3 linked regions of the Homo sapiens genome follow. Changing the gene in region 3 together with the main gene of any one other region gives a genetic interaction. Each region holds a gene or a part of one and is shown on either strand. Other genes may lie near its edges. The genes, in order: PRKCA, ATR and ATM.

What was found.
Region 1: changes in ATM (region 3) and PRKCA are lethal when combined (synthetic lethality), as found in Homo sapiens cells (one study listed by BioGRID).
Region 2: changes in ATM (region 3) and ATR are lethal when combined (synthetic lethality), as found in Homo sapiens cells (one study listed by BioGRID).

The regions. Positions count from the first base shown.
Region 1 is NC_000017.11:66,730,263-66,741,734, forward strand, and holds part of PRKCA (protein kinase C alpha type), read left to right. Parts: intron 1-2,425; coding exon 2,426-2,563; intron 2,564-5,226; coding exon 5,227-5,400; intron 5,401-8,501; coding exon 8,502-8,593; intron 8,594-11,396; coding exon 11,397-11,459; intron 11,460-11,472. UniProt on the Homo sapiens protein: Calcium-activated, phospholipid- and diacylglycerol (DAG)-dependent serine/threonine-protein kinase that is involved in positive and negative regulation of cell proliferation, apoptosis, differentiation, migration and adhesion, tumorigenesis, cardiac hypertrophy, angiogenesis, platelet function and inflammation, by directly phosphorylating targets such as RAF1, BCL2, CSPG4, TNNT2/CTNT, or activating signaling cascade involving MAPK1/3 (ERK1/2) and RAP1GAP.
Region 2 is NC_000003.12:142,447,946-142,459,417, reverse strand, and holds the end of ATR (serine/threonine-protein kinase ATR), read left to right. Parts: intron 1-34; coding exon 35-191; intron 192-306; coding exon 307-460; intron 461-1,662; coding exon 1,663-1,814; intron 1,815-6,184; coding exon 6,185-6,290; coding exon of another isoform or gene 6,291-6,362; exon of another isoform or gene 6,363-8,815; coding exon of another isoform or gene 8,816-8,845; exon of another isoform or gene 8,846-8,859; intron 8,860-9,815; coding exon 9,816-9,989; 3' UTR 9,990-10,183; downstream 10,184-11,472. UniProt on the Homo sapiens protein: Serine/threonine protein kinase which activates checkpoint signaling upon genotoxic stresses such as ionizing radiation (IR), ultraviolet light (UV), or DNA replication stalling, thereby acting as a DNA damage sensor.
Region 3 is NC_000011.10:108,321,994-108,331,128, reverse strand, and holds part of ATM (serine-protein kinase ATM), read right to left. Parts: intron 5,820-9,135; coding exon 5,585-5,819; intron 5,072-5,584; coding exon 4,904-5,071; intron 3,485-4,903; coding exon 3,371-3,484; intron 2,109-3,370; coding exon 1,891-2,108; intron 916-1,890; coding exon 708-915; intron 1-707.

The sequences.
Region 1 (11,472 bases), on a different chromosome or scaffold from region 3:
CCCAAAATTGGGGTTCAGCCTAAGAGGCCACATGGGTTCTTGGCTTTGGGCGGGAGGGAATTCAAGAGCAAACCTACAGAGTAAAGTGAAAGCAAGTTTATTAAGAAAGTAAAGGAATAAGAGGGTGGCTACTCCATAGGCAGAGCAGCCCTGCAGGCTGCTGATTGGCTATTTTGGTGGTTATTTCTTGATCAAATGCTAAACGAGGGGTGGATTATTCATGAGTTTTCTGGGAAAGGGGCAGGGAATTCCTGGAACTGAGGATTCCCCTTTCACACCATGTAGGGTAACTTCCACATATTGCCATGACATTTGTAAACTGTCTTGGTGCTGGCGGGAGTTTCCTATAGCATGCCAATGTATTATAATTAGCATACGATGAGCAGCCAGGAGACCTGAGACTGCTTTCATTGCCTTGTTGATTTTGGCGGGTTTTGGCTGGCTTTGCCACAGACTGTTGTATTAGGGGTTCTTTGTGACCTGTATCTTGTGAAACCAGTCCTGCTGAATTCCTGTATCAGCAGGGGCTCCTCCTGCAAATGCAGAGGCTCCCCAAGAGAGCACAAGGGGGCTCAATCAGTACTTGTGGGATGAAGGCATGGTGGTGCTCCAAGAGGGACGACGGATGATTCCTCGGAAGCCTTCTCTGCTGCTGATCCATAGTAAAGCCCCTTGAGTGCCTTCCTTATCTCCTTCACCATCATCTTGGTAACCACCAAGGTGTTGACTGGAGTGAGTTCCTGGAAAGAGCTCCAGAGCTAAGGTCTGCTGCACTAGGGAGGGAGGTGCACCCTCTCATTAAGAATGGGCAGGCGTGGTGGCTCATGCCTGTAATCCCAGCACTTTGGGAGGCCGAGGTGGGCGGATCACCTGAGGTCAGGAGTTCGAGACCAGGCTGCCCAACATGGCGAAACCCCATCTCTACTAAACATACAAAAAAATTAGCCATGCATGGTGGCGAATCCCAGCTACTCAAGAGGCTGAGGCAGGAGAATCGCTTGAACCTGGGAGGCGGAGGTTGCAGTGAGCTGAGATCGCGCCACTGCACTGCGCTTCAGCCTGGGCAACAAGAGCAAAACTCCGTCTCAGAAAAAAAAAAAAAAAAAAAGAATGTATCCAAGGCAAGAATCATTGCCCTAGGGCTCAGGGATGTGGCTGTGGAGGTCTAGCCAGGGACCAGGGTCCTGGACCTGTCAGCAGCTGACGCTTCTTACAACTAGCTCCTTCCCGTCAGGCAGATGTTCAAAATTCGGAGTCTTGTGCTGGGAGACTCAGCCCACTCCAGGCTTCTCCAGGGCTCCTTCGGTGACAGTGAGACTTCCCGTGGGTTTACTGACCTTCCTTTTTCTGCTGAGCCCTTTTACCTTTTGCCTTTGACATGGACTCTGAGGCCCTGGTGAGAGTCGTGAGGGCAGGGCCCCCTCTAGAGCTTCTAAAAACTCCTCTGGTAGCTCGCCCACCAGGCAGTGACCAGATATTCTTCAGGCGCAAAGGGCGCCTTGTGCTCCCTTTCTTTTTTTTTTTTTTTTTTTTTTTTTTTGAGACAGAGTCTTGCTCTGTCGCCAGGCTGGAGTGCAATGGCGCGATCTCAGCTCACTGCAACCTCCGCCCCCCGCCCCCCGGTTCAAGCGATTCTCCTGCCTCAGCCTCCCACGTAGCTGGGATTACAGGCACGCACCACCATGCCCAGCTGATTTTTGTATTTTTGGTAGAGACGGGGTTTCACCATGTTGGCCAGGCTGGTCTCAAACTCCAGACCTCAGGTGATCCACCCGCCTCGGCCTCCCAGAGTGCTGGGATCTCTTCTTATGCACATCACCATGTCTTTTTGTGAGTTCAACTCTTGATTTAAAAGAAAAAAAAAATCAAAAAAAAAAAAACAACCCAACCCCTGTTCTTACTGTGCATTTGAAAATAGCGATGAATCATCCCAATGGCTTTGCCATTTTAAGCAGTTCCTCTCCAGAGAACATTTTCCTCCCTTTTGGTGTGGGTACAAGTTTTCCTTTATGCAGATTAATTTTAAATTGGAAAATCTACAAATACAAAAAGCATCAGTACACAGTTTATTTCCTTTATTATGTTCATGGACCCGAAGCACTGTTTTTCCCAAGAAGTCGACTTTGACATACTGGAATTACAACCAACCAGCCCTTCACGGATCCCCACGCATCAATTCTAGGTTGACTGTGTAAAGAGTTGTCTCTTAATAGGGAGAGCAGTTTTCTGCTACCTTGCTGACTTTCCCTGTAGGGTGAGTGTAGCTGCTGATATCTGAACAGGTACTCAATTCTCACCCTTTGTTCCTTTTCTCACCCCATCCCACCTCCAAGCAAACATTAAACTCAGTTACAACACGGTGGTTTCTGTCACTCTTTCCCCAGAAAAATGACCCACGTGTTTCCCATTTGTGCTTGTTATTTAGAAAGCCAAACTTGGCCCTGCTGGCAACAAAGTCATCAGTCCCTCTGAAGACAGGAAACAACCTTCCAACAACCTTGACCGAGTGAAACTCACGGACTTCAATTTCCTCATGGTGTTGGGAAAGGGGAGTTTTGGAAAGGTAAGAGGACAGTCGTCTGCAAATTGCAGGGGCTTCTGCAGAGAATGTCGAATCAGTTTTGTTCTCCTCGTAGTTTGCAGAATAGCACATTAGATTTCCCTGTGATTCAAGGTCAGGAGATCAAGACCATCCTGGCTAACACGGTGAAGCCCCATCTCTACTAAAAATACAAAAAATTAGCTGGGCATGGTGGTGGGCGCCTGTAGTCCCAGCTACTTGGGAGGCTGAGGCAGGAGAATGGCGTGAACCTGGGAGGCGGAGCTTACAGTGAGCCGAGATCGCACCACTGCACTCCAGCCTGGGAGACAGTGAGACTCCGTCTCAAAAAAAAAAAAAAAAAAAGATTTCCCTGTGATTTGTACAGTCATCCAGAAGACCACCAGGATGGCTAAATGGTAGAAAGGAGAGGTTTATTGGTGGTATCAGTTTGCAAACCCATAAAAGAAAGTCTATGGTGTGAAATGAAGGTGCCCTCTCTTTGAGGAGAGAAAGGGCAGGTTGGGTTTTATGCCTCACAGGGTCCATGTTACACAGTAGAGTCATCCATATTCAACAGGTTTGGGGGGAAAGCTTGACTTATCTGTGAGGGAAGCCTAGCACAGGCACAATGGATGAACATATATGTAACATGCATCTTATGTTCACTTTGGGGTGGGGACTTAGCATTAAAATGAGGTGGAATTTGCCTAGGCATGGTGGCTCATGCCTGTAATCCCAGTACTTTGGGAGGCCAAGGCAGGTGGACCACTTGAGGTCAGGAGTTTGAGACCAGCCTGGCAAAAATGGTGAAACCCCATCTCTACTAAAAATACAAAAATTAGCTGGGTGTGGTGGTGTGCACCTGTGATCCCAGCTACTCGGGAAGCTGAGGCAGGAGAATCGCTGGAACCTGGGAGGTGGAGGTTGCAGTAAGCCAAGATCATGCCACTGCACTCCAGCCTGGGCAACAGAGGGAGACTCCGTCTCAAAAAAAGTAAATAAATAAAAAAAGGTGGAAGTTGGCTCTTTAGATCAAAAGGTGAACCACAGGACCCAAAAACAGTTTGTGTGCAGGCTCTGCAAGCTGCTGAAACTGGCTTCAGGTCTGCAGTTGCATCACAGAAAAGAATGTTTGTAAGGCCAGTTCTCTGTCCAGTCCAAGTCATAGTGATCTGAGTTGTCAATCAAAGTTAGGAGGGGCCTGATAGCTCCTACTGCTAGGGAGTTTAGCGAGAGTGGTTTATCTTGTAGCTGTAGGGATTTAGAAATTTGCCATGCCAGCTGGGCCCTGAACCCTCAACCCATAGATAACTATTTCCTTAACTTTAATGTTACCAGAAAGGGGTCCTGATCCAGACCCCAAGAGGAGGGTTCTTGGACCTCAAGCAAGAAAGAATTCAGAGCGAGTCCACAGAATAAAGTGAAAGTCAGTTTGTTAGAGAAGTAAAGAAATGAAAGAACAGCTACTCCATAGGCAGAGCAGCAGCATGGGCTGCTTGACTGAGTATACTTAGAGGTATTTCTTGATCGTATGCTAAACAAGGGTTTTATTATTCATGAGTTTTCTGGGAAAGGGGTGGGCAATTCCCAGAACTGAGGCTTCCTCCATCTTTTAGACTATATAAGGTAACTTCTGGGCATTGCCATGGCATTTGTAAACTGTTGGGGTGCTGGTGGGAGTGTCTTTTCACATGCTAATAATGCATATAATGAGCAATGAGGGTAGCCAGAGGTTATTCTCATCGCCATCTTGGATTTGGTGCGTTTTGGCTGGCTTCTTTACTGTATCCTGTTTTATCAGCAGGGTCTTTCTGACCTGTGTCTTGTGATACTAGCCCTGCTGACCTCCTATCTCATCCTGCGACTAAGAATGCCTGACCTCCTGGGAATGCGGCCCAGCAGATCTCAGCCTTATTTTTCCCATCCCTTATTCAAGATGGAGTCACTCTGGTTCAAATGCCTGCGACATTAGGGTCCATCTTAGTCGCTAAAGAGGCATTTATTTGGTCTCTCAGATCAGAGTGCACAGTCCTCACCTGGTTTCTACTTCCTTAAAAGCAACTGCATCCAAAAAGCTATAGTGGGTTCACTGTGTTGTTACTATTTCTCAGTGTTCAGAACAGAAGGGATGCTCAGAAATGCTGGTTGATGAATAGTTTTCACAACTAAAAATTAAATGTTCACTTGTAGTAAGCAAATACAATCATTAAGAGATACTGACATGGGGTCTTCAGCAATTTGCCTGTATCTCCATTCGGTTTCTGTGGCCCCACATTTCATAGACGCAGGAACTGATTTCAAGTCTAGGTTCTTGACTTGAGAGATTATAAATGTCAGTCAGCTTTCACTCTAAGGATACTCCTGAAAAATGTGCATTATTCCAGACTAATCCTGATAGAGAATGTTGAGTATTCATTTTAGCAGCCAAAATAGTGCCATTATGTGGCAGTGGCCTATACCATTTACAAATCTTGGCAGCATTGAAGTTTTGCAAATGCTGGAGGGACTGAATTTGTAGTGATGTGTAGAATTTACAAATTTGCACATAAAGTTTAATATTTTTATGTTCCACATTGACAAAGGTGCACAAACTGTCACTGAGCCGTCACCTGGCCTGGTTCCTTCCCTCTGCCCCCCAAGATATGTGCTTACAAGTGTTCAGGTTGTTCTTGACGTGTTCTCAGGTGATGCTTGCCGACAGGAAGGGCACAGAAGAACTGTATGCAATCAAAATCCTGAAGAAGGATGTGGTGATTCAGGATGATGACGTGGAGTGCACCATGGTAGAAAAGCGAGTCTTGGCCCTGCTTGACAAACCCCCGTTCTTGACGCAGCTGCACTCCTGCTTCCAGACAGTGGTAAGGACCCTGGGAATCCCTGCGATGCAGTACCCAGCTCTCAGAGCTACGCCTCAGCCCAAAGCTTCTTAGCATCCTTGTTCCTTTGGAGAAGGCTGGAGAAAGGTGTGTTGTGATGTCAAGCAGAGGTGACTGGGGACCACCTCCCACCTCTCTCACTGGTAGATTTGGGGCATGCCTTCTCTGTGATGTCCTCTGCTTGGCATTCATGCCATTTAATTCGGCAAACATTTCTTTTTCTTTTTCTTTCTTTCTTTCTTTTTTTTTTTTTTTTTTGAGACAGGATCTCACTCTCTCGCCCAGGCTAGAGTGCAGTGGCACAGTCACGGCCCACTGCAGTCTCAAGTAGTTGAGACCACAGATGTACCCCACCACACTCAGCTAATTTTTGTATTTTTAGTAGAGACGGGGGTTTCACCATGTTTCCCAGGCTGGTCTTAAACTCCTGAGCTCAAACGATCCCCCTACGTTGGCCTCCTAAAGTGCTGGGACTACAGGTGTGAGCCACTGTGCCTGGCCTTAATTCAGCAAACATTTCCATGAAAGGTTTTCTTCATGCCTGGTACTGTGCTCAGACTTTGGGATACAAAAACAAACAAACAAAAAAACTCACAGTCTTGGCTTTTTTTTTTTGAGACGGAGTCACTCTCTCTTCCCCAGGCTGGAGTGCAATGGTGCGATCTCTGCTCAATGCAACCTCCACCTCCCAGGCTCAAGGGATTCTCCTGCCTCAGCCTCTCGAGTAGCTGGGATTACAGGCCGCTGCCACCACGCCCGGCTAATTTTTGTATTTTTAGTAGAGATGGGGTTTCACCATGTTGGCCAGGCCGGTCTTGAACTTCTGACCTCAGGTGATCCACCCGCCTCGGCCTCCCAAAGTGCTGGGATTACAGGCATGAGCCACCGCACCTGGCCACAGTCTTGGCTTTTTAAGACCACTGGTTCCACTGCCAAACATGGCATTGGAGCATAAGGAGACTTGATTTTGTAAAAGAGCATGTTCTTGTTCAATGCCACACAACAGGGACTGGCAAACTGTGGCCTATTCTCTATGGCTTGTGAGTTTAGGAAAGGTCACAACAAGGAAATCCAAAGAGTCATATATCGTGACACGTGAAAATTAGGTCAAATTTTAAATTTCAGCATCCATAAACAGCTGTTTTGGGACATCACCACACTCCTTCGTGTACCTGTCATCTACAGCTGCTTTTGCACCATGAAGGCAGAGTTGAGTTGCTGCAAGAGACACTCACAGCCTAAAATATTAATACATACTGTCTGGCCCTTTGTGGAAAAAGTTTGCTGAGCTCTGTCGTAAAGTAAAACTAAACAGAGGACAAAAAAGGACATTCCAAAGCACTAATCAGTCCGTTGCAGGGCTTGCAAGTGGCCTACAAGAAACAGACATGGCCGGGCGCGGTGGCTCACGCCTGTAATCCCAGCACTGTGGGAGGCCAAGGCGGGCAGATCACGAGATCAGGAGATCGAGACCATCCTGGCTAACACGGTGAAACCCCGTCTCTACTAAATATACAAAAAAAAAAAAAAAAATTAGCCGGGCGTGGTGGCGGGCGCCTGTAGTCCCAGCTACTCGGGAGGCTGAGGCAGGAGAATGGCGTGAACCCGGGAGGTGGAGCTTGCAGTGAGCCGAGATGGCGCCACTGCACTCCAGCCTGGGCAACAGAGCAAGACTCTGTCTTAAAAAGAAAAAAAAGAAACATAGATGTTTAGATGCCACCATAGTGAGACGTTGCCAAAGCTGGTCTTTCCACTCCTCAGAGGCTGCCCATTTAAAATATGACTCCATAATCAGTAGCTGTAATTGATGCGATTATTACTATTTTCAACTGCCCATTGATCAGAGATTGACTTTCTGTCTTATGCCTCTTTGAAAACTCTTGGGAGGAACCTCTCAGTGCTTTTGTGTTTTAGAATCTCAAAATGGCTTTGCAGCCACCCGGAGCCTCTGGGTGTGTAGCAGTGGCCGCGGAGTCAGGCGCCGGCCACTACGTGTCAGCCTAGCGCTGGCGGCACGTTGAGCTTCCTGCTCCCAGCCGTTCCCACTGACTCTGAATCAAGTCACGCCAGGGAGAGATGAGAGCAGCATGCTCGGAAGAGACAACCACAGCTCTGAATCCCAGCCCAGAGCCTGTAACCCTGGTTACCCTGATTAAGCTCTGGAAAGCTACAAAACAAAGAAATGAAGATGAAATTAAAGTTCATAACAGGAAAGCTAGAGACTGGGGCTCCCAGGGTTGCTTCCTGGCTATTAGCACCAGCTTCATCATTTTTTTCTCCCTGTGCAGCACTTTAATGTTTAATATCCTCTGTGAAATGGGGATGTTTTCTAGCAGAGAGCAGAGGTCATTATTTCACTGTTAAACCCCTCCATCTTCCTATCTGTCCCAGCATAATGTCCTCAGGAATATGCAGATTTATTTGGGTCTATGATACATGCCCATCATGGGGCCAACACTTAGCCTACCAGTGACAGAGAAAATAGAAAAACAGTGTTTGGGCATATTACAGATGCAAAAGAACATTTGATTAGCATCTCCATCTAGAGTCCCCTGTCCCATGTCCAGTAAATATATTGAGCATGTGTAATCCTAAGCCTGAGAGATGTGTTTTCAGGAGTATCCATTTAAACACGATACTACATTAGTATGGCACGCCTCCCAGACACTGCAAACCAGCCTTTAAACATTTGGACCATGGAGAAGCACTAGTTAAAATGAAATAATTGCCTTATGTGGATTCCTCACACCATCCCTTACTTAGAAATTTATTATATGTATAGGAAGATAGGGAAGAATGTTCAAGGCCGTTACTATAATAGCATATGTAACAGGAAGGCACGTTGATGGAGAGCCATTATTTCAGGGTTATGTAATGACTTTATACTTCCCAAGGCCCTCATGCAGTAGGGTTTATTACTTATTCTTTCTTTGGAAAAAAATGTGAAAGAGCTCTAAACTGAGCACATCTGCCCATGCAGTCCCCATTTAACTAATGAGAAAGCAAAACACAACCTGTGAAGAGCAAAGGAAGCCACTTGGCTGGGGAGGAGCCCTGCTCATGTGTTGAACCTTGGTCTGCAGGATCGGCTGTACTTCGTCATGGAATATGTCAACGGTGGGGACCTCATGTACCACATTCAGCAAGTAGGAAAATTTAAGGAACCACAAGCAGTGTGAGTATTATTTTTTAAGTCCTTTAATTTGAACAACCAAGTCCTACCAACTGGAAACTTCCTTTTTTCCCCCCCGCTTGAGATTGGGGGTCTCACTCTGTCACTCAGGCTTTGCCTCCCAGGCTCGGGTGATTCTCCCACCTCAGCCTCCTGAGTAGCTGGGACTACAGGCACACACCACCATGCCTGGCTAATTTTCTGTTTTTGGTAGAGATGGGGTTTCACCATCTTGCCCAGGCTGGTCCCGAACTCCTGAGCTCAAGCTGTCTGCCCACCTCGGCCTCCCAAAGTGCGGGGATTACAGGCGTGAGTGAGCCACCATGCCCAGCCCCAACTGGGAACTTCTGCTGGGTGAAATGGGAAAGTGGGATTCTGCCCAGTTTTAGGTTGAATGTTATAAACCTAAACATGGGAGGCGGAGGGCAGATATACTGGTAGGATCCATCTAAGATGGTTCCTAAGGAGCAGTTTATTCTATTTCCAGTATTTCCAATAAACTGGAGATGTTGCCATATCCCATCATCACCCAGGTCCACCCTTGTTGATGGAGTTATTCTTATCTGTTGAACAAATGGTTATCACACACCTGCTCTGCACCAGGCACTGGGGTTGCGAAAGGAACGAGGTGCTCCCTTTCCAGAGGGAGTTTACACTCCACCCTGGAGGTGGAGAAGTCACCTAACAATTAATAGTGCGTTGCTGTAACTTTAGAGACTTGCGCAGGATACCAGGATAACACGTAAGCCCCTAAAAATCGGGGAGAGGGAAGTGCAACCCCACGAAATGACCGGCTCAGAGGTGGGGGAAGAGCCTTCCAGGAAGAGATGTGAACAGAGGCAGAAGCAAGTCCAGGGAAGCAGCCTTGCAGCTCAGCAGGTGTGGGAGATGCTGTGAGATTATTTGAGGGGCGGGGGAAGGGGGGAACGTGGTAGGTGGGGCTCTGGGTGAAGAGCCTGGTAAGGAGCCTGGCTGTGGAGGAGGGAAGAGGGAAGGCACTGCAGTGGGGCTTGCACCATCAGATTCAGTTTTTGCAGAGCTCTCTGGGGGAAGAAGGAAGCATGAAAGGAAATGGTAGAGGCTGGTGCAGGCGCTGGTGAGACCCTTTATAGATAAGAAGGAATGGAGCTGTAGTTAGGGCTAGACCTTGGAGCCAAAGAGGAATAAGTGTCTTTGAAAAACACCCTGGAGGAAGAAAAGCAGAACTTATTGACTATGGAGGAGAGAAGAGATAAACCTCTTCCAGTGAGACCCCATTTCAGGCTTGGGTCGGGGCAGCCACCAAGGAGGAGGTGGTTTGAGGGGGGAGATTCATGAGCTCAGTTAAGAACGTTTTATTGGAACGCACCTGCATGATGGGATGCGGGAGTCGGCAGCACAGGAGGAAGACGTGGGCTCCAGGTGAAGATGAGAGATTCATCTGAGGGGTGTGGGGAGCTGGAACTTTGGTGCTGGAAAACATCATCTCACCTCTCAGGGGCCAGGAAGTCTCAGGAAACACCAGTGGAGCAAGCCTAAACAAAGGGCGAGTTTAGTTCCGCAGTGAGGAAACCTCGGGGGCATGTACCCTGATGAATGAAGTCAGCACCTGTTAATAGGATTCTGGCTGCTGTGCCATCTAAGAGACACATTGGAAGAATTTTTGGCCTGCGAGGGATTATGCACCCTAGGGAAGATTAACTGAAGGCAGAATAGGGAAATCTTTGGTTGCAAGCTTTAAAAGTGTGAAGGGGGATTTTTCTGCCTTTATTGATTGTTCCTTTTCAGTTTTCAGAAATGCCTGTCCTTTTCTTCTGTCTTATGTTGTAGTTATAAAGCCTTAAAATACTCAGATTGTAAAATAAAGCTTGGTCACACAGGACTGTAAAGAGCAGATAGCAGAGTCACCCTATGTTATAAAGTAACATAAAGGTGTCTGGTCCAATATCCTTTCATTATATTATTTGTGTTGCAGAAAAGTTTAGAAAAGCATGAAAAATAATGTAAAGATCACCTGTAGTAATCCCATCTCTTCACCCTCCCCCTTTCTGTACTCTTCTAGCCTTCAGAGGTGGCCCCTCGTTAAGGGTTTGGTCTTGATCATTAGAGATTTTTTTTCCTCTCTGCTCGTGTAGACACGTGTGCTTATTTTGAGCCTCCTGCATGTGATATTTCCACAGGCACAGTCTTGTGGCTTCTTCGACTTCAAAGACTCCTGAATGCTATGCAGATTTTTAAATATTCGCCTCCTTTTAATCTGAGTTTCAGCTATTAATGTATTAACAATTTTGAAGTGATGGTAGTTACTGCTTTTTATTATGAATTATTTAAAAGAGTAAACTCAGATATGAATCTCTCCAACACTCGCAAGGAATGAAAACACTAGCTAAAGAGTTCATCACCCACTATACTTTGCCTTCCAGGGAGTAATTGTATTGTATTTTCAAACACCAGTGTATTCTGCCAGTGAATAGGAAAATGGAAATTTTCTTTACGCCATACTCCTGATATAGAATAGTCTAACTGGTATCCACTCTTTAAATGATTGTATGAGAAATTACTCTGCAGGCAATAAGCTACTTGTCCACCTTCCCCATAAGAGAATAAGAAGCCGGTTTCATTGGTTTTATTAGCTGTCTCATTCACGGATAAGCTGGAGGACGAAGTGATGGAGGGAGGACCGGGGGTTGGAAGAACACGATGCTGGTCTCTGAGAGCCTCTGGGTCTGACATTCTTTTCTCTCTTTGATGCTTGAATTTGAGAATGTAAAGTATACAGGCATCTAAGGAAGCAAGTGAGAAACCTGAAGCCCGTTTTCTTTTGCAGATTCTATGCGGCAGAGATTTCCATCGGATTGTTCTTTCTTCATAAAAGAGGAATCATTTATAGGTGTGTATTGAAG
Region 2 (11,472 bases), on a different chromosome or scaffold from region 3:
TGATGTGATTAATGGATATCACTCTTCCTTGCAGGAGTGTATATGACAGGAAAAGAACTTCGCCAGTGTATGCTACCAAAGTCAGCAGCTTTATCTGAAAAACTCAAAGTATTCCGAGAATTTCTCCTGCCCAGGCATCCTCCTATTTTTCATGAGTGGTTTCTGAGAACATTCCCTGATCCTACATCATGGTAAGTTACCAAGAATATAATACGTTGTTATGGTTGAATGTTTATTTTTAATATTTTAGATTTATATTGGCCTCATATGTATATGGATATTTCATAGGCATTGTGTTTCTTTTAGGTACAGTAGTAGATCAGCTTACTGCCGTTCCACTGCAGTAATGTCAATGGTTGGTTATATTCTGGGGCTTGGAGACCGTCATGGTGAAAATATTCTCTTTGATTCTTTGACTGGTGAATGCGTACATGTAGATTTCAATTGTCTTTTCAATAAGGTATGTGATATGAGTTACTCTTACTAATTGTGTTTTCTCTCAATTTCCTTTTCTCAACAACTGTATCTTCCTTGACATACCTGTTAGTAGCAGTTATACTCACAGTTGAGTTATACTGAGAATTTGTTGACTAGTTTTCATCAGTGGATCATGTAGTAATGCGTATTAGGATGGAGAGAACTTAGAAGAGTGATACTGTAAAGCTAGTACTGAATTTGAAGTCCAAGAGCATAGGTTTAGGTTCTGACTCAATTAGTTATTAGTTATGTGAATAAGGGCAGATCAGTTCATTTTACTGAGACTCAGTTTTAGAGAGACAGAGTAGTTTAATACGATAGTTTCCAATTCTAGCAACATATCAGAATTATCCAAGAATTAAAAAAAAATTTATAGATACCCAGGAGATTCAGATTCTGTAGGTCCAGAGTGGGACCTGGGAATAAATTGAGGCAATTGGACCCATCTTTAAGGCCCCCTACAATTTTCCAATATTATAATCCTGCAGGGCAGACTGGTAGGTTAGCGCACTATTTTCTTCACCTCCATCATCTACAGGTTGCCTTGTGCTGTCACAAGAAACCAAGAAAGATCATAGATCCAACTGAGAACAAATCAGAGATAAAATACTGGCATGGGTTAAACCATACAAGAGAGGAATTTAGGGTAACTGATTGGACAAGGGATGAAAGGTCCCTAGAAAAGGCAGATTAGAGGACAGCAGAAAATGAACAACTGGACTTCATTATATGACATGTTTTATTTCCTTTATGAGGGGATGTGAGCATCTGACCCTTGGCTGCTTCTGTTGTTTTAAGATGAAAGTGTTAAAGAAAAGTAGAAATATATGAGAATATTTGTATTTCATATTATTCAAGAAAGACATTAAAGAAGTTAATATGAGACTAAATATTGAATGCATAAAATTTCTCTGTAATACTGCTTATTCACTGTACTAAACTCAGTGAAAGGTAAGTCCACTTATCTCCTAGATCTTATCCAAGATCAAGTATGGTTTCAGTTCTGTAAAAGCAAAGGCAGAGCTACATGGCTCCTTCATGTTACAAACTTCTAAAGTAATTACAACATAAATATTTTGAGGGTATTTTTGCTTTTTGCTAAAAGAATCTGGACATGAAGTTCTTTGAGTAAAGATTTTTAAATTCTAACATTGTTAGTTTGTAATAAAATGTATTGTTTCTAAGGGAGAAACCTTTGAAGTTCCAGAAATTGTGCCATTTCGCCTGACTCATAATATGGTTAATGGAATGGGTCCTATGGGAACAGAGGGTCTTTTTCGAAGAGCATGTGAAGTTACAATGAGGCTGATGCGTGATCAGCGAGAGCCTTTAATGAGGTAATCACCTATACTTTGTAAATAATTTAACAGTAACCTCGAATATAATTATTGGCCCCTACATATGTTTGTTTTTATGTAGAAACCACTTTGTACTGACTGAAATAGTTTTTTTAAATAATAGCTTTATGCAGATATAATTTATATACCATAAATTCACCCCTTTAAAAGTACATAATTCAGTGGTTTTTAGTATATTCACAAGATTGTGCATCCATTACCACTATCTAATTTTAAAACATTTTCATCAGCCCAAAAAGAAATTCCGTAGGCATTAGCAGTCACTCCTGATCCCTTCCCCCTCCCACCCCTGCTATCTACTTGTAACCACTCATTTATAATATTTTCTGTCTCTATGGATTTACCTATTCAGGACATTTCATATAAATGGAATCATCTAATATGTGGCCTTTTGTGTTTGTCTTCTTTCACTTAATGTAATATTTTCAGTGTTCATCATGTATCAGTACTTCATTGTTTTTTATTGCCAAATGGTATCCTGTTATATGGATATACTACATTTTCTTTTTCTGTTCATCAGTTAAGAGACATTTGGATTGTTTCCACCTTTTGTGTATTATAAATAGTGTGGCTGTGAACATTGTGCACAAGTTTTATGTGGACATATGTTTTCAGTTCTCTTGTGTATACCTGGGAGTGGAATTGCTGGGTCATATGTTAAATGCTGTACTTAACATTTTGAAGAACTCTCAAATCATTTTCCAAAGCAGTTGTAACACTTTATAATCCCACTAGTAATGTATGTGGGTTTCAACTTCTCTGCATCTTTTCTATCTTTAGATAACATCTTTATCTATCCTGGTTATTGTCTGCCTTTTTTATTTTAGCCATTCTAGGGATGTGAAGTTGTATCTCATTGTGGTTTTAATTTGCACTTCCCTAATGACCAGTGATGGTGAGCATCTTTTCATGTCTTTGTTGGCCATTTGTAGATCATCTTTGGACAAATGTCTATTGAAATCCTTTGCCCACTTTTAAATTGGGTTTTTTTATTCTTTTTTTTTTTCCTTTGAGACAGGGTTTCGCTCTGTCACCCAGTCTGGAGTGCAGTGGCGTGATCTTGGCTCACTGCAACATCTGCCTCCTGGGTTCAAACGATTCTCGTGCCTCAGCTTCCTAAGTAGCTGGGACAGCATGTGTGCATGAGCCACTATGTCTGGCTGATTCTTGCATTTTTAGTAGAGATTGGGTTTTACCACGTTGGCCAGGCTGGTCTTGAACTCCTGACCTCAAGTGATCCTCCCACCTTGGCCTCCCAAAGTGCTGGGATTATAGGCATGAGCCACCATGCCTGGCCTATTCTTGAGTTGCAAGAGTTTGTTTCTTTGTTTGAGACAGAGTCGCCCAGGCTGGAGTGCAGTAACGTGATCTCCACTCACTGCAACCTCCGCTTCGTGGGTTCAAGTGATTTCCCTGCCTCAGCCTCCCCAGCAGAGAAGGGGTTTTGCCATGTTGCCCAGACTGGTCTTGAACTCGTAAGCTCAAGCCATCCACCTTCCTCAGCCTCCCAAAGTGCTGGGATTACAGGCATGAGCCACCCCGCCCAGCCAAGTTGCAAGAGTTCTTTACACATTTTGGATACAAGACCTTTTAAGATATGATTTTCAAATATTTTCTTCCATCTGTGGGTTGTCTCTTCACTTTCTTTGATGATGGCCTTTGAAACATAAAAGTTTTAAATTTTGATGCAGTCTAATTTGTTTTTTTCTTCTGGTTATTTTTGGTGTTTCTGTTGTCATATCTAAGAAACTATTCCCTAATCCAAAGTCATGAAGATTTACACCTATGTGTTCTTCTAAGCATTTTTGACTTTTAGCTCTGCTATTTAAATCTTTTATCTGTCTTCAGTTATTTTGTAGATATGGTGTAAGGTAGGGGTCCATATTCATTTTTTTGCATGTGCATATCCATTAGTCACAGCACCATTTTTTGAAAAGAATATTTTGCCCCTCGTTTAATTATCTTGGCTTTTTTGTTGAAATGGTCAATTGATTTTCAGCAATATTCTGTTGATCTATATGCCTAACCTTATGCTAACAACACAGTGTTTTGATTGTTGTACCTTTGTAGTAAATTTTGAAATCATAAAGTGTGAGTGTTCCAACTTTGCTTTTTTTCCCCCAAGATCATTTAGCTATTATGGGTCCCTTGTATTTCCATATTAATTTTAAAATCAGCTTGGATTTTGATAGGAAGGACATTGAATTTGTAAATCAATTAGGGAGTATTGCTGTCTTAACAATTTGGGAGTATTGCTGTCTTAACCATGTTAAGTCTTCTGATCGATGAACATAGAATGTTTTTCCATTTATTTGAATTTTATTTTTTTCATCAATGTTTTGTGGTTTTTAGGGTCAAGTTTTATATTTAACTTTTAAAAATTGTATTCCTAAGTATTTTATTCCTTTTGATTTTATTCTAAATGGAATTTTTCTTAATTTCATTTTTGGATTGTTCATTGCTAGTGCATAGATATATAATTGATATTTATATATTGATATTGTATCTTACAATCTGCTGAATTCATGTATTAGTTCTAATAATTATTTTTGTGCCTTCCTTAAGATTTTCTCTCCACAATAACATGTCACCTGCAGATACAGTTTTTCTTCTTCCTTTTTAATATCAATGCCTTTTATTTCTTTTTCTTGCCTACTTGCCCTAACTAAATCAGTGTCGAATAGACATGCTAAAAGTGGACATCCTTGTCTTGTTCCTGATCTTAGGGGTAGAGCAGTCAGTCTTTGACTTTTAAGTATGATGTTAGCTGTGGGAAACAGATTGTTTGAAAGGACTTTTAAAGCTTATTTATTCACCTTCATTATTTAAAAGCTGTCTATCGGGCCGGGCGCGGTGGCTCACGCCTGTAATCCCAGCACTTTGGGAGGCCGAGGCGGGCGGATCACGAGGTCAGGAGATCAAGACCATCCTGGCTAACACGGTGAAACCCTGTCTCTACTAAAAATACAAAAAATTAGCCGGGCGAGGTGGCGGGCGCCTGTAGTCCCAGCTACTCGGGAGGCTGAGGCAGGAGAATGGCGTGAACCCCAGGGGGCGGAGCCTGCAGTGAGCCGAGATTGCGCCACTGCACTCCAGCCTGGGCGACAGCGAGACTCCGTCTCAAAAAAAAAAAAAAAAAAAAAAAGCTGTCTATCAGACATTATGGTAGAATACTGGTTAGTTGGACATATGCAAAAGCAAATTCTCTGAAATAGGAAGTATATCATCATGTGGAACAGTTACCAAGAGCCCCTGTGTTAGTCTGGGTCAGTCAAGAAATAATTTCTGGAGGAAGTAGTTGAGACCTTAAAAGTTAATAAAGTTGACCATGCAAGGGAGAAGAGAGTGTTCTGAGTGATAAAAATATCAAGGCAAGTGAAGTCATGGCCTGCCTGAGAAATACAGTATGTATTCCAGAGGGTATACTTCCAGGAGGTGGTGCTAAGAGATGACGCAGGACAGGTAAGCAGGGGCTAGATTATGAAGGTCTCACATGGGGCCTGTTACTACATTATAACTTTGCCTGCAGAGCAACCAGAAGTCATTGAGGATTTTAAGAAGGAATAAAAAGGGGGCAAGGGGTGGAAAGAGATAATCTGATTTGTACTGTAGAAAAAATAGGGTCCTAGTTTGGGCCAACAGCCAGAAAACTAGTTAGAGGTTTATTGCAGTAACCCAGGAAAGGATGATGGTGTACTGGATAGTGTCACGGCCGTAGAGACGGAGATAACTGAAGAGATTCCAAAGAGATTTAGGAGTTGTAATTGCATGTTAGAGGAAGACGGGGTGAGGATGATTCCTAGATTTTTGTCTAGGGCAAATGGGTGGATGATGATTTGGGGAATACAGGAGAAATAGTTGGGAAAAGGTAATTAATTTTATTTTGGAGATACTGAGTTTGAGGTGTTTGGAACATATCCAACTGGGTATTTCCCATAGGTAATTGGATTTGATGTTTAGGGTGCAGAAAAAAGGTCTGGGCTAGGTCTATATGGTAGCTATAGATGTTATATCGTTATTGAAGACATGGTAAGGGATAAAATTCCTTCATTCAAAATATAGTCATTTACCAGTTCACAGTATACACTTAGAGATGGCACATAGAACCCATCTTACTCTATTCTCCAAAACACCTCTGACTCCCCTCTATCTTGCCTTTTTTCCTGCCTTCCCTTCTCTTACCCTCCCCTCACACCAAAACAGAAATTTCACATAACTTAATGAAGACGTAGTAATGTGTATTATAAGAGTATTACCATTAGCTTCTCATCCTTCACTTAAATATTGATGTCAGCAAGATTTCTTCTTGCAAAGATAACATCATACCATAATATTTGTTTCAATTTTAGTGTCTTAAAGACTTTTCTACATGATCCTCTTGTGGAATGGAGTAAACCAGTGAAAGGGCATTCCAAAGCGCCACTGAATGAAACTGGAGAAGTTGTCAATGAAAAGGTTAGTAGAAGGTATAGCTTGATATGGGCTGTAGTCCTCATCTCTACAAATGAACTTGATATGCAGCTATAGTTCTCATCTCTATGCATGAGAACTGCTTGGAAATACTGTTAGTGACTATTGATTACTCTGAAATCTAGTTCTCTAGTATCACAATGCCATAAGTTTTCTTTATTGTCAGTAATGTTAACAGTATTCGCATTTGTATAATAAAAGTTCATGGCACACTTGTTTAACCATAGACAATTCACAGTTATGAGATACAGTAGGAAAAACTATAGTACAAATTGCCTGAACTTACAGAACAACAGGTCTGAGCTTTAATATCATGATACCAGTATGTCACAAGCTATGTTAACAAATGCAGCAATTCACTTCTTACTTAGTTGAAGCTGCAAAGTTTGCAGATAGTTTTGTTGTTGTTGTTGTGGTGGTGGTGGTGGTTGTTGTTTTTGAGACAGAGTCTCGCTCTGTCATCCAGGCTGGAGTACAGTGGCACGATCTTGGCTCACGGCAACCTCTGCCTCCTGGGTTCAAGCAGTTCTCCTGCCTTAGCCTCCCAAGTAGCTGGGATTATAAGCGTGCACCACCACAGCTGGCTAATTATTATATTTTTAGTAGAGATGGGTTTCACCATGTTGGCCAGGCTGGTCTTGAACCCCTGGCTTCAAGTGATCCACCCACCTCAGCATCCCAAAATGCAGGGATTATAGGCATAAGCCACTGTGCCTAGCTCAGATAGTTGTTTTTAATAAGTTAGAATAGATTGAGGATTCGTTTTTTTTGGTGGGGGGCACTCTTACATCTTTAATAAGTCTTGTACAGGCTTACTAAATACAATGAATTATACCAACTATATGCTAATAAAGATTAAAAATTTACATTCCAGTTAACTACCTAAAGAGTTTAAGTCCACTTTCATCCTACTGATATAGCTCGAGGAAGGCTAGACCTGTACGCCCCCATCCTTCATGTCATCCTTAACCCTTTGTCTTGAGAAAGAAGGTTTAGCTGCTTCTTTAGTTCTTCTAAAAGAACTAAAAGAAAAATTTCTTTTTCTTGCTCTATTATCTTCATCTGTAGGGTGAGATTAATATTTCCAGAATTGTGGAAAAATTCACTCTGTAGCAGTTGAAGAGCAGATGGTCTCTGGGACATGTTCCTTTTCGTTAAGTGATAGATATACTTGGCTTGTACTGGATACCTTTTACTGAGGGATTCCAATATCTGACCAGTTCTTGAACCTGTTAAAACTTCTGCTCGCTCCATTTCTGTTCTAAACAGCTGAAAGAGCTCTAGCAGGATCACACTCAAGCTATATACATATCTAACTGGACAAAGCCAGCCCTGGTCTCTACAAATAGTTTTTGTTTTTTTTTAATTAGCTGGGCTCAGTGGCACACTCCTGTAGTCCCAGCTACTTGGGAGGCTGAGGTGGGAGGATCACTTGACCCCAGGAGTTGGAGGCTGCTGTGAGCTATGATGACACCACTGCACTCCAGCCTGGGCAACAGAGTGAGACCCTTGGCATCATACTCAGATCCTTCCAACTGCTGGGATGAAGCATACAGACAAGTGCCCACTCTGGATATAGGTGTTGGTGTTCTCTTTCTGTTTCTATGGGTCCAGTCTGTGTTCTTTTGTAAGATGTCTGGGCAAGCCAGACCAAAGTCTCCTATTTTTACTTGCTGATCAGGGCCATGAAGAAAAATATTTCTAGGCTTCAGATCTCTGTTTACAATACCCATGTTATGTATGTAAAACACACCTTCCACTAAATCTTGAAAATTTTTTGTTGCAACACTGGCCATAAGGACAGGCAAACTTGCCCACACACTCTTGGCCCTGTTTGTTTCTCTCAGCTAGCCAGTCCCACAGCTGGAGCTTGCACACCTGCATCTGGATGTGCAGCATCAGGTGGTACTGCACCTCGATCCCCAACAAGTTGAAGTTTTCTTTGGAAGATTCCTCAGTGGATGTGAAATTCTCCTCTAGGAGGGAATTACACCTGAGCAGCAGGGGCTGTTTCACAATTGACCAGGTAGACAAACCAGCCAGGCCATTTTCCTGGAGCTCCAGGGATGATTCATATTCACTGGTGTCTCTTAAGACGGAATTGATGGTGTAGTTCACAGCTTGTTGTTCTGATTTTGAGTGTCAGATTCTGCAAAGGGTTTTTCTTTTCTGAGGTGAGCTCCGCGAAGATAATGGGTGAGCTGCTATTTTCACCATTTTTAACACCGTATTGGTATCTGTCTGCTTGGTCGGAGAACACTTCCAGAAATGGCAACTGAACGGAAGCTCTGTCTGCTTGTGGTTGGACCACTTGAACATGTTCTGTCCACGCAGTGTGATAACGAATGATATTAGGGTGCTGAAGACCTGCCAGCACCTTCATTCCCCGTAGTTCTTTCATGTAATGTGTTTTTGTTGCACCCTTAATCAGGATTTTTTAAATTGCATAATACTGACCATCTAATTTATTCCTGACCTTGTATACTCTTCCATATCCACCTTTTCCTAAGATGGCAAGTTCTTCAAATTCATTTAAGTAACGTGAAGTTTGTGCTTCAAAGGGTACTTCCCTTGATCTGATTTTCTGGATATGAGAAATAGCCTCACAAGGATCCTGATGAACTCTCTCTTTAGTGGACCTCATTAAGTGAGTAATAGCTCTGTGGTGATGTAGTCTCAATGAGCTAAACTTGTCACAAGTGAAAGAAGACAGCAGCCCCATTTTGATAAAGGTCTGGCAAAGTAACTTAAACACTGTCTTGAATGAACTGGGTTTGGTTCACGCACATGGCTCAAGTGCTTCACCAAAGAAATAAGCGGCAGCTGGTTTGCAACTGCAAAAGGGAAAGTTGGCTGTTGTAGGGGTTATTTTAATACCTGGAGTTCTGCTGGAACATAAGTCATATTTGGAGTCCAGGCTCTTGGCGGAAAAGTCGATGGCAGATGGCACAGCAACAGTCTCCACCCCGTGGCCCTCCTCTTTGTGCTCGTGGGCTGCAGCGCAGCCCACCAGCCCACCCAGCACCACCTCTGAGAATTATTCTTCTAATAACGTTATTCTTCCTTTTGCATTCAGATATGCTTAAGAAATTGTACAGTTCCAAGTAGCTCACTTAGAACACCCATTTGCATGTACTAACATAATGTAAATATTAGGCAGTACAGCATTGTTATTTGAATATTCATTGAAATGTTTAAGTCCTAAACACTTCCAAAGCAGATTTAAAAAATTATTTTTCTAGAATTGTAATGTGTAAATAATTCCCTGGTATTTCACGTAGTCCAGAAACATGTCCAAGCAGTTGATGTTGAATCAATCTTGCGAGCCTCCAAATCAGTATCACAAGCTAACTGTATTTGTTTAATTTCTTCTTTTCCTGTATTTGCTCTTACAAAAGGGGTATTGGTCAGTAAAATGGTATTAACATTTATTAAATGTCAAAATATAAAGAAAGGTAGTAATTCCAAATTATTAACATCTGTTTTTGGTTTTATGTTTCTTCTTTTTAGGCCAAGACCCATGTTCTTGACATTGAGCAGCGACTACAAGGTGTAATCAAGACTCGAAATAGAGTGACAGGACTGCCGTTATCTATTGAAGGACATGTGCATTACCTTATACAGGAAGCTACTGATGAAAACTTACTATGCCAGATGTATCTTGGTTGGACTCCATATATGTGAAATGAAATTATGTAAAAGAATATGTTAATAATCTAAAAGTAATGCATTTGGTATGAATCTGTGGTTGTATCTGTTCAATTCTAAAGTACAACATAAATTTACGTTCTCAGCAACTGTTATTTCTCTCTGATCATTAATTATATGTAAAATAATATACATTCAGTTATTAAGAAATAAACTGCTTTCTTAATACATACTGTGCATTATAATTGGAGAAATAGAATATCATGTGTTCTTATGGTCAAAAACTATATTTGCAAGAAACAAGCAAGTCTAATTTCATTTTACAACTTCTATTGATTTCCTTTTAAAAGTCCTAGCTATTGTAAGGATTCACTTGAAGAACAAAATTATATGGAATAAATACTGTGGGCAAGGCGTTGTGCCAGACTTGTGCATAGAGCTACCCTCTCCTGCCCTCCAGGAAGTGACAGTCTAGTAAGAGAGATATATAAATATAAATAGCATATCATTAAGTTCACTTAATAAAACTTTGTTTTAAAGTGTGATAGGGAAAAAATATAAGCCAAGAAGCGTGAATGTGAAAACGAAATAAACATTCTGTAATTTGTGTGATGCTGCCATACTGCAGTCCCAGAATGCAGAATCCAGTGGTCATGAAAGACAGCGATACTTAACATTTCCTGAGATCTTAAAATCCAAAAAGTATTAAATGTTTAAGGTTTTTCTGTAAGTTTTCATCCAGAAGACTTAAATACAAAGTAACGGGTTAATACATTCAAATAAGTGGAAAACTCTTACATTTAAAACTGATAATTTCACTTAAGTTGATAGAACTCTCCTTTGCTGTGCGGTTGAAAGTGTGATGGGGAAAAATATGATAAACCCGGATGCAAGAATGTCAAAACTAAACATTAAATGATTTCGTATCCAAGGTCTTATGTTAACAGTTGCGGGGGGCGGGTACATGGGAAATTTTTTTGAACAATTTGGAAAAGAACGTTTTTAAACGTATGTATTAAGAAACGTAAGTTTAAATTCCTCAGAGAAAAAAAATTATTGACAAAACAACAAACTAAGCCAAGTAAATCACCAGATCTTTCGAAATCTGAATGAAAAATACTGAGATTAGCAACCCTAGGAGACAAGCGGAACAAAAATCAGTGTTCGATACCCTTCCCACACCTTCGTACGGTTTTCATGCCACTTCCAAATCCACTTAGAAAGCACAACTCTATCATGGGGCATTTTCGCCCCTAAGTTGCAACACACCAGCAAACCTCCGCAGATTCCCTGACCGCCACTGGACAGTACCGCGGCCCCGGCCGCGCGAGGCCCGGAGGGCTAAGCCCCGCCCCTCGGACGGCCTCGGATCCTGCCGCTCTAGGCCCGCCGGGCGCTCTCTATGGTCGGCCGGGCGGTGTGTTGTCATCCGCGGAGCGACGACCGGAGGCTGCGGCGGAGCCCCGGCGGGGCGTTTGGTTTCGGTTTGGCCCTGACTGGGATTAGTGTTGACGATCGA
Region 3 (9,135 bases):
ATTCCTGAGAAGTCAGTGTACAATAAAATGAAGTAATTGCTTTTCCCCATAGGCCAAAAGTAATATTTAGTGTATACTACAGCAGAGATTGACTGTATCTATTATGAGTCTTATTATTTTCCTGCAGGAGAAACATTTTATCTCTAACCTTCAAATTGACTAACAATATATAGCTTGTCAACTTAAATTTAATATTAGGTGTCATCACTATAATCTAAGGTTTTCAAAGAAAAACTTATACAATACTGCTGTCTTGACATTTTCTGAAAAATATATTTTCTCTACTTACAAAAGTAATTTATTGTAAAAATCCCATATTTCTGCAGCAGGGGGAAAACCCACCTGTGATCACATCATCTTTAACTGCTTTCTAAATCCTCCAATCTAATGCCCCATTCTAGACCCTCTCCTATGGTAACTGCAAAGACATAGGACCAAGCTAAATTCTATCACCTCCACACAAACTTGCATCATTTACAGCTTGTCAGCTTATATAATACAAAGGAACTTTTGTAGAAACAAGACTAGAACTTGTAAATAATCCTAAATATGGATCAAAGTTTAGAAAACTACAAAATGCTACTTATGTGTAGAGCACTGGACCAAGTGCTAGGAATACAAAGAGGTATACACGATTCCTGACATCAAGGGGCTTATGTCTAAGTTTTTCAAGCACAGGGTAGAATATTGGGCTGAGTAACACTTGCCTTCATCATGCCATTGACTTCAGAAACTCCAGAATTTTCAAGCCAGAGGGAACAAAGTCGGAATACCCACATATCATGTTCTTCTCCACTTAATAAGCAGTTGATATAATTTTCAACTGCTTTACATAAGAAGCGTTTACGATCCTCTTTCAGTGCACGCAGGGCTAATTCATCCAACTCCAGCTCTCGCTGAACCTTTACTGTGTATCTTGCATAGAATAATTAAGGTAAAACACAAAAGCCATGAACTTTAACAGAACTACAAAATCACACATGATATACAACATTTAATGAAAAAAGTTGGGTTTTTATCCCAGGGAAAAAAGCAAACTTCTAAGGATTATAAAGGGAATAAACTTACTTTTGTCTTAACTGTGCAATTCACACACCTTCCTAAGCATCAAAGGACAAAGGGGACTCTCCCCAAGCTATTTAGCTAACTTACACCTCTGCTTACACTAAAATATACAGATTCAAGACAGGCTTAAATAAAGGGATTTAATTACATCAAAATAGGTAACTTTTGTAATTAATTTCAATATCTATCTCCTTTTCCACTATGATACCAACAAACAAACCAAAAAAGCAAAACAGAAAGCTAATATCTATATTCTCCACAATGAACTTAGAAGCAGAGCATGAATTATTCACAAAAGAACACGTCAATATCTTACATACTAATTTGTGATTAACTACAGTAGGACCAAGACAGACAGGGCACAGTGCCTCACACCTGTAATCCCAGCACTTTGGGCGGCCAAGGTGGGCAGATCGTTTGAGCCCATGAGTTTGAGACCAACCTGGGCAACATGGCAAAACCCCATCTCTACAAAAAATACAAAAATTAGCCAGGTATGGCGTGCACCTGTAGCCCCAGCTATTTCGGGGGCTCAGGGGGAGAATCAATTGAGTCCAGGAGGTCGAGGTTGCAGTGAGCTGGAGTACAGTGATCACGCCACTGTACTCCAGCCTGGGTGACAGAGTGAGACCTTGTCTCAAAAAAAAAAACAAAAAACAAAAACCGAAAAGAACCCAAAAGACCAAGATAATCTATATATAGTTAAGCCGACCTTTAGAGCTCAAAACTATATCAGATAAAAAGACCAAGTCACTCTTTCTATGCAAAAACACTCACTCAGTTAACTGGTGAACATAAAATTGTCACTTGTAGAAACCTAGTTACCTGTTTGTCTGAATTTTATGTTCCCTAAGGAGACCTACTTCCTCTTTGGCTCTTTTCAGGAGAGCTTGCTTGTTTTCAAATTCCGATGATTTCATGTAGTTTTCAATTCTTTGGTATTGAGTATCTGAAAACCGGGCTAATGAGAGAAATGCCTTCATTTTTCCATTTCTTAGCTCATCACTACTTTCTCCATCATAATTTCCAGCAACTTCTACTGCCTTCAAGAAAACACAACCAATTTAAATTATATTTACAAATACTAAATACATCTAAAGAATCACTCAAATTAAGGTAATACACTAAAATTTAACTTATATACATATAAAAGCTAGCTAAATTATATGAACTATTGCAAACTTGTCCAACCCACGGCCCATGGGCCGCATGTGGCCCAGGACGGCTTTGAATGTGGCCCAACACAAATTCGTACATTTTCTTAAAACATTATGAGATTTCTTTTGTGATTTTTTTTAAGCTCATTAGCTATCATTAATGTTAGTATATTTTATGTGTGGCCCAAGGCAATTCTTCTTGCAATGTGGCCCAGGGAAGCCAAAAGATTGGACAGCCCTGAACTATGGTATTTTCTTGACTTTTCAAAACAACTTTGACAGTGTAGAAATAACCCAGACAGCTAATACTTGTAAAGAACTCTGCAAAAACAGAGAACTTTATAAAATTTAAAGACAATCAGGCTGGGTGTGGTGGCTCAAGCCTGTAATGCCAGCACTTTGGGAGGCCGAGGCAGGTGGATCACTTGAGGTCAGGAGTTCGAGACCAGACTGGCCAATGTGGCGAAACCGTCTCTACTAAAAATAAAAAATATTAGCCGGGTGTGGTGGCACACTCCTGTAGTCCCAGCTACTTGGGAAGCTGAGGCAGGAGAATCGCTTGAACCCAGGAGGCAGAGGTTGCAGTGAGCCGAGATTGCGCCACTGCACTCCAGCTTGGGCGACAGAGAGAGACTTCATCTCAAAGAAAAGAAAAGAAAAGAAAGACAATCGCATCATGTGTTTCATGTTACACTTATTTAGTGAGGTAACTATTTCCAAAATTAGTGAATCTAAAGGAATAAGAGGGAGAAACAGGAAAGTCAAAGGGGCTAGTATATTGAAGCCTTTACTTGTGGGTGGCTGGGCTAATGAAGAGCAAGGGCTGACTTGCCTATTCTTAATCAGTTATTTTTGTAGATGCATAAATGAAGAAATGATCAGAAGCAACCTGCTGAAAGGGTAGCTGGTAGTGGAGGTAGGAAGGAGGAAGAAGAGATACTATACTTGGGCTTACTTTCAAAATTGGCTGCTTTGTTTTGTAACAATGTTTCACTCCACCCTAGAGACTATACAGAGCTACAACAGTAATAATATATAGAAAAATAAAACCATACTTTTATTTGCTTTGGAAATATATTGATCTTGATGAAAAGATGAAGCATATTCATGCTAAGTAACTATCTTAAGGGTTGCTCCAAAAATCTTACCTTTTCTAGATAGGTCTGCATGATGACCGCAGGATTTTCTAAGCACGTTTCTGCTAACCAGTTGCCACAAACCCTCAGACATTCTGTGTATGTAAGTTTTAGGCTGGGATTGTTCTGTATAAGAAAGGCAAAATCTTAAAATATAATGCATTACCATGACTGTACCCAACTGCCCTTCATGTACGGGGAAAAAAGCAGGTTAAAAATGTTTTTCCTTGGTGGGTGGGAAAAAAAAAGTTTTTCCTCATCTGCTTTTGCCATACAACTATTTTAATAATCCCATGTAGGAAATGATCATCCTCTGTTTATTATTATTATTGCCATTATTGGAGCAAGTCACATTTATTGAGTACTTATATATGTCAGACACTTTGTAAAGGCTTTATATATATTAACTCATTTAATTCTCACAAGAATCCTATTAAATAAGTACTATTATTACCCCAATTTGCAGATTAGAAAACTGAGGTACAAGGAAGTTGGGTAACTCCAGACAGCACATACTTCAGGGCCAATACTATTAAGCAATATTTACACATATCATATTGGCACTCAGTGCTTTGGTATAATGATTTCTCTAATAACAGAAGATGCTATACAATGAGTGCCCAACATCAAAAAGTACAGTAAAGGCCGGGCGTGGTGGCTCACGCCTGTAATCCCAGCACTTTCAGAGGACAAGGCGGGTAGATTGCCTGAGCTCAGGAGTTCGAGACCAGTCTTGCCAACATGGTGAAACCCCATCTCTACTAAAAATACAAAAAAATTAGCTGGGCATGGTGGCATGTGCCTGTAATCCCAGCTACAAGGGAGGCTGAGGCAGGGGAATTGCTTGAACCAGGGAGGTGGAGGTTGCGGTGAGCCGATGTCGTACCACTGCACTCCAGCCTGGGTGACAGAGCAAGACTCCGTCTCAAAAAATAAATAAATAAATAAATAATAAAGCACAGTGAGCTGATATTCACTAAGCAGGTACATGTCTGTGGGACACCACTGTAGACAAACCTTGGGGACACCAATGCCTCTACTTTATCCAGTGTGTATGCTGGGTTTACAGCTGAAGTAGCAACATAAGTTTGCAAAAACCAACAGGTAATGTTAGATAAAATATTAGATGTGATATTTTCAAAGCATTTGGATTGACAACCTAATTGTCCCAACTTGCTTTTATTTTCTAATTTAGTTCTCTCATTCATTTCCTCTTCCCTTTTTTCACTTGTCATTTCAAATTTAGAGTAGCTATTTCATTCATTTCCCACATACCTTTCTTGAATTCTATAGGAAGTTAAAGGCTTAATACTGGGATATATTAAATGAATCGACCACATGATGGACTGATAGAATTGTGATATATAGGAAAAAGTTTCTAAACTTCATTTACAAATTAATTTTCAAGACTAGTTTTACAATATCTTGTTAATAAATTACTAATTTCAAGGCTCTAATAAAATTGTTATTAAAAATATTTTAAAGTACATTTGTGTTTTTTTAAATAACAGTAAAACACTAATCCAGCCAATAAAAAAAACAAACCGCTGCACAGCTGGCATCCAACTTCTTGATCATTTGCTTGAGAATACTCAGGGCAAGACTCTGCTCCTTTTTTGCCCAGAATACTTGTGCTTCTTCCAGCTGCCACTCAGAGACTCCACAGCTAACTGAATTGTACTGTTTAATTTGAAATATTGCCCTTTCAGGGAGCTGAAATGAAAATGACATATGGGAATAAATACTTTTACTACTGATACTACTACCATGAATAATAATAATAATGAAAGCAGCAACTACCATTCATTGAGGACTTAACTACTTGTCAGGGACTATCTTAAGGACCTCTCTGTCTGCATGACATCTCCCCACCCCACGTCTGCCTATCTGTCTGTCTGTCTGTCTCTCTCTATATGTATGTATGTGTATCTGTGTGTACATACACACAGTATATAAAATCACTGAATTGTTATCAATATAGTAAGTTACGTATCTTCTCATTTTATAACCAGGAAATTGAGGTTGAGAAAAGATTAAGTACCCTTGCCCAAGGCTTAAAAGTCAGATCTAATTCCAAAATGGGAACTCTTAAACAATTATTTTTACTATATATTAATAGAGATCTCTATCTCTTAATGACATTTCTTTTTCCCTCAGGCTTTCTGTTTTTTAAATAATAAAAGGAAAGTCAAGAGGTAAGATGACATAGTTTTAAATTGTATTTACCTGAGTGTTCTTGAAAGTTCTGGCCAGTATAGAGAGTTCTACAAGGTGTTTGGTGAGAATGTCCTTAATACATTCTCTTTGTGAGTTGTCCATTTCCTTTTCCATCAGGATCTCCAAAATGACTGTGCGTAGAGCCATGATAGGCTCCTGAAAACTAAAATCACTGTCCTTGAGAAGCTGGGAGTGTTTCTGCCACTTAATATATACTTCAGAGAGTTGTCTATGTGTGACTGATCTGAATGCCACGACATAGAGTTCATGTAAGCAAGAGAAATGAAAAAAAAAAAAAAAAAAACTATGTAAGTTCTGGAACTTACGATATAATATTATAATAATACAAAGGAACTTTTGTAGTGACAAGACTAGAACTTGTAAATAATCCTACATATGGATCAAAATTTAGAAAACTACAAAATGCTATGCGGTCAGAGCTCTTAAGAGTTATTAGCAGAGAGGTCACAGATGACAAACATCAAAAAAAATTTTTAATACTCTGACATTACAAAAAGCAGCCCTTCTAAATACTCTTCTGAAACAAGAACATATTCATCAGACCTATCATAAAGAATGCCTCCATCTTTAGTCCTGCTTCAATACTGCCTGTAGTAATGAGGACATGTCAGCAAGGAAATGAGGGACCCCCTACTGGGGATGACTTGATGCATAATTATAGCTGTCAAAAAAATCACAATCCAGTGAAGGAAAAGCTGGCATCTGGCAAAGGTTTCATTTACCAACATTATTAAAGGAACAGAAAAGGCATATTGCACAATTAGTTTATATGAATAGTATCCTTCCCAAATAACTGAACTATGAAATACTACCCAATCCTTCAGGGACATTTATTGAAAGAAATAAGAAAGAGGAAGCAGGGAGAGTAAGATGACAAAGTGATGACTAAGAAATGAAAGCTCTTTTAGTTGCTTGATAGGGAAGGAACAGTAACAAAAATGCTAGGAACCAAAACTTCAATTCCTCTCTAAATGACCCTACCACAGCAGGTCTCAAACTTTTTGCGGAACTCCTTTACAATCAAACAAATTATTGAAGACCCCAAAGAACTTTCGATCGTTGGACCATATCTACTGATATTAGATATGATATCATATTAGAAAGACTGAGAAAAATCTAAAATGTATTAATTTATTCAAAAATAATAAATCTACTATATATCATAAATAACAATTTTTAGGAAAAATAACTACAGTAGTTTCTCTGTATCTGCAGAAAATTGGTTCCAAGACACCTTGATAATGCTGATGTTCAAAGTCCCTTATTTAAAATGGCAGGGCATTTTCCTATTACACGTAACCTCTAGATTGTGCTTTTATTAAACATTTCCAAAAAGTATTACACATAACCTCTAGATTACGTGTAATAGGAGAATGTGCACAGGTTATACATAAATCTCTAATTACATATTATACCTACTATAATGTAAATGCTATGTAAATAAGTGTTATACCCTATTCTTTAAAATTTTTTTTTCAAATATTTTTGATCTGCGGTTGGTTGAATCCATAGATGGAAACCTGTAGATAAAGAATTTCAACTGTATACTTCCCAAAACAAAACAAAACTTAGTGAGCATGGCACTGTTTTGCATTTTTGCAAATCTCTTTAATGTCTGGATTAACAGAACGAGATGAATTCTTATCTCTGCTTCTGCATTTAGTTTGTTATTATTTAATGTTTTGGTTGATGTATATGAATGGAATGTAATCTGAGAGCATAAGCATTTGTGCACCAGTTCATCCAACCTTCCCTCTGCTTCTCTTCTTCCTATTTCTCTACCAAAGAAACAGCCAGATTATTCTTTAGGTGTTTCTTTTTAAAATTTATTTTTAATTTTTATGGATACATAATAGTTGTACATATTTATGAGGTACGTGTGATATTTTGATACAAGCATACAATGTGTAATGATCAAATTTGGGTAATTGAGATATCCATGATCTCAAACATTTATCATTTGTGTTGGAAACATTCCAAATCTTCTTTTGTAGCTATTTAAAAATATACAGTAAATTACTGTTAACTACAGTTGCCCTATTGTGCTATCAAACACTAGATCTTATTTCTTCTATTTACCTGTGTTTTTTCACTCATTAACCAGCCCCTCTTCATCCTCTCCCTCCACAACACCCTTCCCTGCCTCTGGTTACTACCATTCTATTCACTGTTTCTTAAAGAATTCTGTACTCTTTTCAGCAGGATAATCTTTCATTCAGAGGAAAAATTTCTTGATTTCTGGCAGTAAGTACTGCCAATGTACTTATGAATGAAAGCAGAAAAGACTTTTGTTCCTTTATTTTCCTCCTAAGCCACATTAATATGTATGTCTTCTGCTATGTCATTTTGAAAAAACTATTATTATTTTCTTCTGACTCTAAAATTTCCTTCTCTTTTCTACTTCCAAAACATATTCCAAATTTTATTTTTGCATAAAGGTAGAGTGACCTTAGTCATTTATATCCTCTTTCTTCCCTCGTATAATAATAATAGTAATTCAAAATAGCAGGGCTAAAAGGGGCTTTAGAGACCATCGAATACAAATCCCTGACTTTAGAAATGAGGAAACTGAGGACCCAAAACACTTTACTTTGTCATCCTGCCAGACTCAAGGCTGCCCTTACACAACTCTTCCACTTCTTTTATCTAGTAGCAAGGCAGAGATAAAATGACAGTAATGCAATGCAGTGCTAAAACCGAATGGAGTGTAACATGCTGTGCAAAAACATGAGGAAACAATTTTATCTGGGTGGGCCAGGGAAAAAGTTATAAAGAGAAAAGCACTTTTAAGCTGAATTTTTTAAACTTGAATTTTTACAGTGACTATTTTGGAAAATGTTTAATAAAAGCACAATTCTCTAGGGCTAATCAACTTATATCTTGATAAAAGGAAAGAATTTAGATCTACAGCATCCTGAGTAACTATACTATTTCATCTTCCAAAATCCCTGGATCATTTCCCTCTCACCATTATAAGAAGCAATTCCTTCTGAACACCTTTTACAAATTAACTGACATCCACTATCCACTGAATGTTTACTAAACATAATTATCAGTCACCAGAAGAGAAAACATTGGGGGCCGGGCATGGTGGCTAACGCCTGCAATCCCAGCACTTTGGGAGGCTGAAGCGGGTGGATCACCTGAGGTCAGGAGTTCGAGGCCAGGCTGACCAACAAGGCGAAACCCCGTCTCTATTAAAAGTAGAAAAATTAGCCAGGCATTGTCGGGGCACCTATAATCCCAGCTACTCGGGAGGCTGAGGCAGGAGAATCGCTTGAACCTGGGAGGTGGAGACTGCAGTGAGCTGAGATTATACCATGACACTCCAGCCTGGGCAACAGAGCGAGACTTGGTCTCAAAAAAACATAAAAAGAAAAAAAAGAAAACAAAACAAAAACACTAGGTATACAACAATAAACAATAGAATGGTTCCCACTTTTAAGGGAGCTTCTAGTTTAGCAAGGCAGAGATAAAATGACAGTAATACAATGTAGTGCTAAAACTGAATGGAGTGTTATCATGCTATGCAAAAACAT